Regions from separate parts of the Homo sapiens genome. Here region 1 is linked to region 2. Evidence: fine-mapped expression QTL. Tissue or cell type: adrenal gland. Region 2 holds a variant in brackets; the other region holds the start of a gene. All regions are shown on one strand. Distances are between the middles of the regions.

Region 1 (2,690 bases), 95 kb after region 2:
CAGTGAACCATAATTGCACCACAGCACTCCAGACTGTGTGACAGAATGAGACCCTGTCTCGAAAAAAATCTTAAATTTATGTATCTTAAGAATATACATTAATATAGAGTTTAAATATCAAATAAAGAGGGTTTTTTAAAGTTGAAACAATGTATCAGAGGATAAAAAACCATAAAACATTTGTTTAAATTTAAAGGATTTGTTTAATCTGCCCTATTAATTGCAATTTTCACAGTTAACTAGTACTATTTTTTATTTAAATAATAGTATGTATGTAACAGAATAGTAAAGATGTAACCTGTGGATGCTGTTTTACAGCAGCAGAAACTGGAACACATGCAGTCTCATGATTGTCCTACTCTTTTGCCAGATCATTGCATTGTCTGCCCAGGCACCCCTCATCCCATCTCTCTCCATCCCTTTTCTTACCTTTTCATGTTCCTTGTCTTTTCATGACAGCATTTATCAATGTCTGAAAGTAGAATGTTGTTGATTGACTCTCTCTTCAACTAGAACATAAGCAATGAGCGGCCCAGCCTTTGTCCCACACACTGCAGTGTGTCCCACTTCTAAGAAAGTGTCCAACACACAGCAGGAACTCAGTCAGCATTTCTTGAATGAATTAAGTGAAGTGATGCATACAGGCCACATTCTGAGCTGCTGGAGGAGCCAGTAGTTGATTACCAAACTCTAGTCCTTTATCTTGGTGTCCTGATGTCCTGACTGATACACAGTTTGTAGGCAAATAGCTGGTGGGGTTTAGTAGTATGGGATAGAATAAAGGGAGATGTAATTGGGACACTCTCCACATTATCTGCCCCCATGAAAAGCTAGTTCCAGGTGTTGCCATCTCTGCCCCACACTGGGCTTGCCTTAGTCCTCGTTCCCGCCTTTTCCAGACAGCAGTGCTGAGAAGCAGGAGCCCCTGAGCTTGGAGACGCAGGAAGAGCCCTGGGAGGCCCAGATCAAAGGGAGGCAGTCAGCTCATGGAGCCGAGGAATGTTCTGCTGACACCCACCCCGAGGGTATCCGGTATGTTTCTGTGCACCAGCGACCCCTCCACACCTCACCAGATTGGTTCCCCAGCCCCGTGGGACCCAATTCCGGGTCAATTCCAATTTGATTCCAGTCCAGAATCAAATCAGAAGAGCAATCCCGAGTGCCCACCTCACGGTCTGAAGCACCTCCTCCTACACCCGGACCCAAACACGAGGTCGGCTCAAGGAGGCACTGAGGTCACGACAGTCAGGGTCCTGCGCTGCTTGTCGCATGCAGTCTCCTTCCCCGAACCGCCGCCTGCACGGCCTCCACTGTTTTCCTATTGGGCTGCAGCCTGAGAGCCCTGACAATGCGGCCCACAAACCGGGAACGCGAAAGTGCACGTACCAGGCGCGATCACCAGGCGCTAGCGCTGAGGGGGGACTCGCGTCACAGTAACCGCCACCGTTGCCGGGGGACTGGCCCCAGCGGCTTGGCCCCCAGGCGTCTGTGGCAGTGCGTCCCCTCTCCGCGGGATCGTCGCCATGGTCCTGCGATCCTAGGAGTCGGGCAAGGCCGAACCTGCCTGAAGAAACCTCAAGCGGAGATTCAAGGAAGCACCACGTGATCCCTAAGGATCCCAAAGATGCGTCGGGCATGCATGGGCGGTGTGAGGGTGCGTCTCCCTGACAGGTGTCCCCGCTGGGATTTCGAGGTACGGCCTGCCTGTGTTCCCCGGGGCGCTCTCTTTCCGGAGGGGTTTCCTGGCAGAGAGCAGAACCGCGCAGCCTCAGGAGCTGCCTGGCTGTGTGTGTTTCTGTGCGACTGTTGGATGTTTCCGTGTGTCTTTCTGTGTGTGCGTGTGAGTGTGTGTGTGGTGTGCGGTGAAAGAAATGTGGCTCGTGCAGTGAAGCGCGGTTTCTCTGTAGTTCGCCTACGCTCTGATGCGCCCGTCTCTTTGGCCGGGCTTGGGTTGCGGGGCAAGCGTTCTTTGTTTCGCTCTTGGTTCCTAAAGCCTCGGTGAAGTGGGGGGCTGGCTGCGACCCGCAAACGTCCAAATCACCTCCCCTCCCAAGCCGCCCACTCTTCCAGAAAGAAGACCAGCACACGACAACCAAGAACAAATTCCTCCAGGGGCCCATGGTCCTGCGGCACACCCAAGGCTGGACGGACCCTAGCTGTCCTGTCCTCAGTACCCCCTTGAGCCCACTTCTAATTCGGTGGCTGGCGGAGTCGCAGCTTCAGGACCTGAGGCGGGCACTCCTTCATCCTCTTCAGATTTCATTCTGGATTAAAGGATGTGTGCAGAAAAAAGGTCAGATGGGGGTGAAGATACAATCCGCTGAGGTGTGGAGGAGGTCTCGCACCTTCACCTGCAGAACAGGTGCAGACAGATGTCAAAGAAACTGTTTCCAACGCCATCCCCTTTTCCTCTTCACTGTACAACCTGTCCACACCATGGCGCTGTGCTGGCGATAGAAGACACGAGTGTTCGGAGAACCTTTGGACCGAAGACTGTCGCCTTTCTGGCCAGGTCCCCTGTTGGACCCTGGTTCCCCGAGGCACATGGGAGTGGGATGGATTGATCCTGCCTGGGCTGCGGCCTCTACTCTGTTCTCCCTCTTTTCTTGCCTTCCCTGATTCTCGTCGGCCCAGGTTTTCCTTGGTCTGGCTCACAGTCCTCCAGAACGTCCTTCACAGCAAATGTTTCC
Region 2 (2,690 bases):
CATTTTATTTTGTGTCCTTTGTGCTTCCTGAATCTGGATGTTCGTTTCCTTCCCCAGCTTTGGGGAGTTTTCAGCCATTACTTTTAAAATAAGCTTTCTGGTCCTTTTTCTCTATTTTCTCCTGAGATTCCCATAATGCATATATTAGTCTGCTTGATGGTATTCTATAACCCACTTAAGCCTTCTTCACTCTTTTTCATTATTTTTTATTATCACTCCCCTGACTGAATTATTTCTAATGGCTTGTCTTCCAGTTTGCTAATCCTTTCTTCTGCTTTATTTAGTCTGATGTTGAATCCTTCTAGTGAATTTTTCAGCCAATTCTCTGGAGAGCCCACAAAGAAAAGATGGCGTACTGGTTGCACAAACCAACCCCTTCTCTCCCCTGGATGAGTTAGGGCATCTCTTCCTGACTGTCTGGTACTGTACCAGGGGCAGTATCTCCAGCAACAGGGTATCCTGAATCTCCCTACTAGCTTCACTAGTCTTGTTTCATGTTCTCTCAGGATGCAACAGCCTTTACAATTAGTTTCTGATTTCTCACAAACAGAATTTGTCTGTGAATTGTTGCTGAATTAGTATTTTGGGAAGGTGAGGAAGGGTCCAAGTCTTCCTACACCACCATCTTGCTGATGTCACCCCCCACTCCTTCATTTTGAAGGGGTATTTTTGCTTGGTGTGAAATCCTGGATTGACAGTTTTTCTGCACTTTAAAAATGATTCTCCCTTGTCTTCTTGCTTGCATGGTCTCTGATAATAGATCTGCTATATGTAATTCTTATTCTTGTTCCTCAATAGACAATTTTTTTCTTGTTATCTTCAAGATTTTCCTTTTATTTTTAGTTTCCAGCAGTTTAAATATAATATGTGTAGATGTGTTTTAAAATTTTGTTTTGGTATTTATCTCTGAGCTTCTTGGACCTATGGTTTCGTGTCACTAACTTGGAAAATTCTCAGCCATCATTTATTTAAATACTTTTCTTCCATCTCTGCTCCAATTACCCATCAGGTCCATTTCATATAAGTCATAGTTATCTTAAATTCCTGTTGGGTTGTTGCAATACCTATGTCATAACTAAGTCAGTTATGATTATTGCTTTGTCTCTTTGAAGTATGTTTTTTCTTTTTCTTCTTGCCTTTTTATATGCCTCATAATCTTCATTGAAGGCTGTACATCTTGGATAGTACAGTAGATATGAAGGTTAAGAAGTTTTTACACTTAAACATGAGTATGTCTTTTCTTCTGCTAGGTTTTTAACATGGGGGGTTATGCTGGTCTATTCAATAGCTGGACAGGGTTTGAGGTTTGTCATTGCTGTGGTTACACTGAGTGTACC[C/A]CAGGCTTCAATAATATCCTCTAATAATATCTGTGTTTAAGGTAAGGGTTGATTTCCCATGGTTGTTTTCTCAATGCATGTTTCTCCCTTAGTTTTGGGTGTTCCATTTGTGCTGCTCCCCAGAGAGAATCTCTCTTGCAGGCTTCCTAGCTGTACTCTACTATTGCTTCTATTTGATTCTTGTTATCTTGGTGGGGGTTGAGTAGACGGAGGGATAGCATTCTCTTATGATCTCACTAAGCCTCAGTCTTAGGCAGACACCATATCCCTAAGTCTTGGGGATGTGGCCTTCACAAGTGCTCTTGCCGCTCTGCCAGCTGTAGTGCTAGTCCTAGAGCATATTCCTCCCCTACTCCCAGAGATATTACTTTTTTTCAGGTCCCTTTCCTAAACTGCAATAGCTTTCTACAAGTCTCCTAAGGCAACTGTTTTTGCTGCTCTTCATTATGCAGTGATAGGGAAGATGGGTTTGGGCTGCTGTTGCCCTCCCCCAGCTAACACCACAAGGAAAGGCTTCTCAGGATTCACTCCCATCTTCCCTATGAGTGCCTGTTGGGATTCCCAGAGGAAAAGCCTACAAGAGACTGCAACCCCCACCTCCCTAATTTTGCAAGTCCCCCAGTGGTTTCACACTTTCATTAGCTGACATTCACACTTTAAAAATTTGTTTAAAAACTTGATAGCTGTATTTTCTTACTGGCTTATATGGTGTCTGGCAGAGTCCATCCCAGGTAAGTAAAGCTTGAGTCCTGTTTCTCTCAGCTGGCATCTTTCTTTCCCCAGATTTAAGATTACTTGGTTGCCCTGTGACCTCAGTTCTCTGAAGGGTCCTAGAAAAATTATTTTGTAGTTTGTCCATTTCCTTGTTGTACGGTAGAAGTTTGTAGTTTCCTTGTTGTAATGATTGAAGCAAAGTTCTTTCCAGCTGTTTACATCCCTAAGGAGAAACCCAAAGTCCCCTCATTACAATAAACTTTTGAGAAGTCCTTCAGTTTATTTTGTCATGGGGCTCAAAAATACCTTGCAAATAAAGTTAGGATTAGGATAACAGTTTAAAGTCAAGTAAATTAGCTAGGATGGAGTGGGAGTGGGAAAGCATTACAAGCAAAGCAGTAGCAATTGGTAAGGCCTCAGAAAAGACGGAATTCAGTATACTGGAGGAACTCAACTTTAAGCTAATTGAGGAAATACTTTAGAAATAAATTCACAAACTAAATGTTATATTCATAACAAATGTTATTTTTCTTTCCACTGCAAAGAACTTACTTCCAGCCATATCAATTTGTTTAGTTTCTGGACTATCATGCATGATTCCCTCCTGAAATGAGCTCTGATACAGTTAAAATGCTTACA

Evidence for each region. PIP is the estimated chance that this variant, and not a neighbour inherited with it, causes the effect.
Region 1: ZNF571-AS1 starts here. The variant in region 2 is fine-mapped to the expression of ZNF571-AS1 in adrenal gland (GTEx, PIP 0.93).

What each region holds. Positions count from the first base shown.
Region 1 is chr19:37,547,463-37,550,152 of GRCh38, forward strand. ZNF571-AS1 (ZNF571 antisense RNA 1) reads left to right here and starts at 1,487. Exons shown (of 6, transcript NR_038248.1): 1 at 1,487-1,693. It overlaps LOC124904708, which reads right to left. Exons shown (of 2, transcript XR_007067248.1): 1 at 430-2,690.
Region 2 is chr19:37,452,800-37,455,489 of GRCh38, forward strand. The region is part of intron 2 of ZNF569 (zinc finger protein 569); the gene reads right to left. Among named protein-coding and RNA genes, the nearest start is that of ZNF569, 13 kb to the right of the region's middle. The variant C/A (reference allele first, on the strand shown) is at 1,338.